2 linked regions of the Homo sapiens genome follow. The protein of the gene in region 2 purifies or fractionates together with the protein of the main gene of each other region. This does not show direct contact. Each region holds a gene or a part of one and is shown on either strand. Other genes may lie near its edges. The genes, in order: HTR2C and DAGLB.

Region 1 (3,824 bases), on a different chromosome or scaffold from region 2:
TTTATAACATGTTAAATGGTTAGTGTCTATAACTTATAAAGAGCTATTAAATTAAGAAATAAAAATGAAAAAAAATCAGAAAAAATGAGCAAAAGGACACTTAAAACTGATTTAGCAATGGCACTGAAGTGGTTTTCATACATTTAATCATATGAACTTCAGCCAAATAAAATAGATGCAAATTAAAATTACACTGAGGTAACATTTCTCACTTATGGGATTTGCAAAATCTAAAAAGTTTGAAAATAAACTTCATTAGCAAGGCTTTGGGGAAACAGAGGCTTTCTTGCATTGCTGGTGGGAATGCAAAATGGTTCAACTCCTAACTACATGTACCCTTTGATCAATCAACTCCTCCTCTAAGAATTTATTTAGAAGATAAATTCTGAATACATTTGAGCAAGAATTTATTTAAAAGTTAAACTTCCAATAATATGAAACACACACATGCACGCGCGCGCGCACACAAACACACAAGACAGACACACATGCACGCACGCACACACAAAGGACACACACACACACACACACACACACACAATTATTCTTAGTAGAATTATTGGCAACTTCCAAATGTTGGAAACAACTTACCTGATTATACACAGAAGATTGGTTAAATAAAGTATATCAACACAATCTATTATTAGTGAGTGTAAAAAATAATAGAATGAATTTAGCTTTTAATTGGAGTATTTAGGCCATTTACATGATAAAGTTGGGTGCATATCTATCATCTTACAAATTGATAGAGTGATTTCCAGGACATATTTCCAAGTAAAAGAACAAAGCAAAACAAAGTATTAATTTGTATGTAGCATTTTAACTTTTAATTTAAGAATGGAAAAATAACAATACGTGTATTTGTGTATAATCTTTTTTTTTTTTGCAAAAATAAATTCAAGAAGTATGCCCTAGAAACTAATGAATGGGTTAACCACGGAATAGAAGAGGAACTGACTCTTCTCTGAGTATTTTATTTGCCTAGTTTTGACTGTTGGAGCATCATATTAAAGTTTTACATATTAAAAAATAAAGTCAACAAGGTTGGGGAATACATGCAAAAACAAAACAAAATCCCTAAATGTGAACAATTGGTATCAGAACCACAGAGAAAAAAAATTCAAACTAATCCTAGCATTTTGAAGACAATGCTTTGACTATATGCCATTGGTGGAAAACATTCTAAAGATAAAATTGCAATGAAATTTTAAACATTGCATTTCATTTATTGGTAGTGGTATGGGTATAGAAATTCTGAAATTAATTTCTTGTATGGTAGGATATAGAAAATATAAATAATAAATATATCAATGGTTTGGGGACAAAGTTACTCACTGTGAGAAAAATGAGGAAAAATAAAGAATTGGAAAGTAGCAAGAGTCCTGTGTTCGTGAATTGGGATTAAAGGTATTGATATATAGGAGCAATGATATCCTATTAGCAATGAGCATACTGAGCTTCTGCATCCTGCTTTATAAAACCATTGCCCACTAAAAGGGTTTCTTGTAAGAAATGGCTAATTTCGGAACTGGGGCATGGAAAGTAAAAGGTGAGTCTGGCAAATGCTCAAAAGCTGATGGGATATATGAAAAGGAGTTCTTATTAGAAAAATATGAGACAATTTGAGCATCAAAATAATTAAGGGCAATAATGAATCATATATATTACACTGAATACAAAAGAATCCAGGAGTCTCCACCAACATGAACTAATAAATAACAAAGACTTGGAGGGAAAACACTTCCTTACAGTATAATACCAACAAATAAAGGCAGGAAGAATAATAAAATGAGAAAAATTATCATTGTATCACCTTAGTAATAGATAGCTTAGGGAAGAATCATCAATGGATTTGAAATCCATTAGGTCAAAGTTTATTGGGAAACAATTTCTTAATTTCCAAATATACGAAGGTTTTTCTACTATTTTGAAGTCATTTCTATTTCTTTTGAATTTCAGTCAAAGAATAAACAATTTATTCCAACCCTTTGGAATGTGTTGAGGAATTACTTTATGGTCAGTTTTGATAAATATTTCTTGTGCAATGATGGGAATATGTATTCTTCACTTGTCAGTGAGTTCAGGTTTGTTAATTGTTTTCATACAATCGCTGAGAAGGATGTGCTAAGATCTTATGCGATGATTGTAGACTTGTCTATCTGTCCCTGAAGTTCTGTCCTCTTTTACTTTATAATGTATATACTATGTATATTACATATGTATCTACATATAATTATGTACATACAAATTTATTACCTTATGTCTTCCAGATGTATTAAATCTTTCATAGTAAGTAATCTTCTTTCACTGGAGTATTTGTTTTTTGCCGAAAAGTCTATTTTGACAAATATTAATATAGCTATACAGTCTTTCTCTTGGATAGTGTTTAGATGGAGGAATTTTTTTGTTTGTTTTTATCCTTTTACTTTCTTTATGCTTTATATATGCCTCTTGTAACATATAGTTGTCTTATTTTTTTGAAAGCCTATATGACAGTCTTAGAATCCTTAGTAATTCATATAATTAGGGATATATTTGGTTTTAATTCTGCCATTCAGTATACGTTTTATATTTTTCTATCTTTTATTGACTCCTTTTGGATTTATCTTATTATTTCATTTTATCTTTTATTTGTAGAGACAAAGTGTTGCTTTCTCATCAAGGCTGAAGTGTCATAGCACGATCATAGCTCACTGCAACCTCAAGACACTTGAGTTCAAGTGATGCTCCTGCCTCAACCTTCTGAGTAGCTAGGGCTACAGGCACATGCCACCATACCCAGCTAATTTTTAATATTTTATAATAATCTTCTGTAAATTTGGAAATTCGCCATCTCTAATCTGCCACAGAGTTCTTAGGTTTTCATTTTTTAATTAATTAATTTTTTTTGTGTGTGTGACAGAGTCTCACTCTGTTGCCCAGGCTGGAGCGCAGTGGCATGATCTCAGCTCACTGCAGACTTGACCTCTGAGGGTCAAGTGATCCTCCCACCACAGCCTCCCAAGTAGCTGGGATTACAGGCGTGTGCTACCATACCTGGCTAATTTTTGTATTTTTAGTAGAGATGGGGTTTCATCATGTTGTCCAGGCTAGTCTTGAACTCCTGGCCACAAGTGATCCGCCTGCATCGGCCTCCCAAAGTGCTGGAATTACAGGTGTAAGACACTGCCTGGCCCTTAGTTTTTCATATTATGCTTAAGTTCCATATTTTCTAGGTGTTTCTCAAATCTTAATGTCATTTGTTATAGTTTGCAGTTTCTTGCTGAAGTGTTTAAGATCAGCATGTAATTTCCATGTGCACATTCCAAATGATTATTTAAAGTGTATGTCTGATAATTCAATTATCTGAAGTGTTTGTAAGTTTATTTCTGTTATCTCTTATTGTCCCATACCTGATTCATGTTGTATTGTCTCCTCATATATCTGCATATCATTGTATTTCAGTGACAGCATTTGAAAATTATTGAAAGAAATAAGTTGAAATCTAGGATTATGGGGTTTTTTTTGTTTGTTTATGCCCCAAAATTGGAAACCTGAATAATACGAAATCATCTTAATCCAATTTTAAGGCCCAAGATTTCTCTCATTTACATAGATGACTTGAACCAGGGCTGAATTCCATGTCTATGGTGATTTAATCCTGGTCGATCCTTATTCCTAGTGTCTGGTTTTTTTGTGATCCCAGAATTAAATTCAGGTTGGTTGGCCCTTGCCAGACTCTGTATTCCTACTCTAGTCCTCCATTGCTTGCGAGTCTGAAATGATCGTCTCCACCTGTCAGTCATATCTTCAGGTTTATAATGCATCATTGGCAAAAGTGAACT
Region 2 (3,824 bases):
CGTGCTCACTACTTCTGCTACCATTATGGCCACAATGACTTCCCATAAACTTAAGTCATTGAGACCATGGAATTCTGTTCCCATCCGATTCCTGTTGATGGACATTCGCTGTTTTGGCGTCATGGGAACTCCTCGGATGGTAAGTCAGTTTAAGGACAAAAGCGTGAGTCCATCGTTCCTGGGACAGTTTCCAGTGGCCCTGGTCAGGCCACGTCCACACTGGAGACCCCTTGTGCTGGACAGGAGACGCAGGCCGCTCTGTCGGAGACCACGCTGTCCAAGGCCCGCATCAGGATGTCTGGCATGTGGTCGGTGAGCATCTTCGGACCTATGAGTATTTTGCTGAATTCCGCTTCGTGTGACCACTTGGCGCTATAGTGAGCAGCAGAGCAGCAGCCAAACCTGAAGCAGAAAAGGAGAGACAGCTCCCACGCGGCCCCAGGGCTGACCCCGCGCTGCTCCTGCCTGCCCACCACACCCACCACGCCGCACTCACCGCCCCGAGGCGCCCTCCTCCTGCAGGTGGATGATCCTGCCGGGAGGGTAGAGAGGGGGGTACTTGGGAGAAGAGTCCAGTGGGGAGTCGCTGGAGAAGCTGTAGGCCGGGGACCAGCGCGTCAGTAGGCTCTGCTCCCCCAGAAGAGGCTGTGTCAGGACTTCCTGGTCGCCCCCGTCCAGCTCCGTGGGCAAGTTGTTGGGGTTTCCTCCAAACAGTTCGTACCACAAACCGTGCAGCAAGATCTTGTACTGAGGGCGAGACCCAATCAGTAGAATGCTGTCACTCACCCTCTGTCACCCGAGACCTCCCGAAACACCAAGGCGGACCAGGCACAGGAATCTGCCCTTTGACCCAGAAACCCCGCTTGGAAGACTCCAGCAAAGATGCACCGGCGAGCTGTGCTGGGTGGCAGCCACCTCGGCTCAGGACAAGGCTCTATGCCTAGTCACAGATCATGAGTGTGGGCTCTCTCTTGGGCAGTAAAACCATCACACGTGGAGCAATATTAAAAACTAAGCCATACAGACTGTGAGGGATATTTCCCTTAATTATTTTCCGGCAATTCTGGAAATCAGCTTTACCCTTCCTTCCCTGAAAGGCATTAGATATTAATTTCTATGGGCTGGAGCGCAATGGCGTGATCTTGGCTCCACAATCTGCCTCCCGAATTCAAGCGATTCTCCTACCTCAGCCTACTGAGTAGCTCGGCTTACAGGCTCCTGCCACCATGCCCGGCTAATTTTTTGTATTTTTTTTTTTTTTTTTTTTTTGAGACGGAGTCTCACTCTGTTGCCCAGGCTGGAGTGCAGTGGCACAATCTTGGCTCTCTGCAAGCTCCGCCTCCCGGGTTCACGCCATTCTCCTGCCTCAGCCACCAGAGTAGCTGGGACTACAGGCACCCGCCACCGCACCCGGCTAATTTTTTGTATTTTTAATAGAGACGGGGTTTCACCGTGGTCTCTATCTCCTGACCTCGTGATCCACCCGCCTTGGCCTCCCAAAGTGCTGGGATTACAGGCGTGAGCCACCGCGCCCGGCCTAATTTTTTGTATTTTTAGTAGAGACGGGGTTTCTCCATGTTAGTCAGGCTGGTCTCGAACTCCCGACCTCAGGTGATCCACCCACCTCAGCCTCCCAAAGTGCTGGGATTACAGGCGTGAGCCACCGGGCCCGCCCTAGATACTAATTTCTAAAAAAAATTTTAGGCTGGGCACAGCAGTGGCTCACACCTGTAATCCCAGCACTTTGGGAGGTCAAGGCAAGCAGATTGCTTCAGCCCCGAAGTTTGAGACCAGCCTGGGCAACATGGTAAGACCCTGTCTCTACAAAAAATACAAAAATTAGCCAGGTGTGTTGGCGCATGCCTGTAGTGTAGCCCCAGCTACTCAGGAGGCTGAGGTGGGAGGATCAGTTGAACTTGGGAGGCTGCAATGTGCCGAGACTGCGCCACTGCACTCCAGCCTGGGTGACAAAGCGAGACCCTGTCTCAAAAAAGAAAAAACTGGGGGAGGTAATTGGTAAGGAGAAAAATTTAAATTGCGTTTCTTCTTTCTGATTAGGAACAAAACCATGAGAAAGGTCAGAAAACAAAGGGATTAAACAAGTAAAAATCATCTCTACCGACACTAAACAAAACCACCCTTGGCATACGTATTTTCAAATTTTTGTCAAAATTCATATATCTGTATCTCCTTGTCCCCACTCTCTGCCATGAGTCATATCTCTTAAGAATAATTTTTAAGTTTTTTTTCTTTTGAACTTTTCAATGGATATCTATCTTTATCGGCAGACAGAAATTTCTTCTTTTTGGAGACAGAGCCTCACTCTATCCAACAGGCTGGAGTGCGATCTTGGCTTATGCAACCTCGGCCTCCTGGGTTCAAGCGATTCTTCTGCCTCAGCCTACCAAGTAGCTGGGATTACAGGCACTCACCACCACCCCTGGCTCATTTTTGTATTTTTACTAGAGACGGGGTTTTGCCATGTCGACCACTCTGGTCTCGATCTCCTGACTCAGGTGATCTGCCTGCCTTAGCCTCCCAAAGGGCTGGGATTACAAGCGTGACCCACCGCGCCTGGCCAGCAGACATAAATTTCTACCACCATGTTAAAAAACCCTTGACGTGGACATATATCACCATTTTAATAACTGCATGATATCCACAGTGTAGATAAATGTGCCTGTACCTCTTAAGGTCTATTTGGCAGCCTTGCTTTCTAAGCTTTCGGACAACAAAGCCAAAAGGCATTAACAAACTGTTAGTCACAAGACAGGACTAAGAAGTTTGTCAGAAAGCAAAATCAAACAGTTCCTCCAGAGTATTTTCTTTTCTTTTTTTTTTTTTAGAATAGAGACAGGGTCTTGTTGTGTTGCCCAGGTTGGCCTCAAGGGATCCTCCTGCCTTGGCCTCCTGAGGTGCTGGGATTCCAGGCATACACCACTGCTCCCAGCCCAGATCCTGTTTCCTCCCTGTGACATTTCCCGCACTTGCTGCAGCCATTTGCTTTCTTAGACATCACAGAGTCCTAGCCCAGAATCTGATCAGATGGTGGAAGGAGAACTTCCAGCAACAGCATAGAGTGCCCTGCACTGAGGGTGCAATTCCTCCCGGCTCTCCACAGGATCTCAGGGACAGGCCCCGTGTCCTGCTGACCCTCTCAACAAGGCACCCGCTTACCTTGGGTTTATTGCAGTGCGCGACCACTCGCAAGATTCTTCTCTTCAGATCTTCCAAGTTGGTCACACTGAGCCTGTTTAGCAAAGGGGCACACTGAGGCTGGGACCTGGCACTCCCAACCCCCCAGCCCTGGGCACAGCACCAGGTGGGCTTACCTGGGAATCACATCCTTCCCCAGGACGAGTGACACGATGAAGCTCTGAGAATATTCCTGCAGAGCTTTGCTGAAATTCCAAACAGAGAGAGGATGTTAGCTTTACGATGACACTGCCCACAAGGGCTTCCATGAAAGAAATCAGTAACACTGAGGGGTTAGGTTCCCAGGCCTCAGCTCTGTTCTCTCTTCTCTAAAGGGAGGGTAGGGGAAACGTCAGTTATGGCAACTCACTGGCCAGATCCTACTAAAGCCACAATATGTGTTCAACAGAGACGCCCCGCAGCTAAAACCGCAAACTGGACACCAAGGCGGACCAAGCACATGGATCTGTCCTTTGACCCAGAAACCGCGCTTGGAAGACTCCATCAAAGATGCACTGGAGGCCGGGTGCAGTGGCTCACGCCTGTAATCCCAGCACTTTGGGAGGCCGAGGCAGGCGGATCACAAGGTCAGGAGATTGAAACCATCCTGGCTAACACGGTAAAAGCCC

The links.
Region 1: the proteins of DAGLB (region 2) and HTR2C purify together in Homo sapiens (co-immunoprecipitation; one large-scale study listed by IntAct). This does not show direct contact.

What each region holds. Positions count from the first base shown.
Region 1 is NC_000023.11:114,849,480-114,853,303, reverse strand, and holds part of HTR2C (5-hydroxytryptamine receptor 2C isoform a precursor), read right to left. Parts: intron 1-3,824. UniProt on the Homo sapiens protein: G-protein coupled receptor for 5-hydroxytryptamine (serotonin).
Region 2 is NC_000007.14:6,409,634-6,413,457, forward strand, and holds part of DAGLB (diacylglycerol lipase-beta), read right to left. Parts: intron 3,402-3,824; coding exon 3,333-3,401; intron 3,251-3,332; coding exon 3,178-3,250; intron 748-3,177; coding exon 497-747; intron 403-496; coding exon 204-402; 3' UTR 1-203.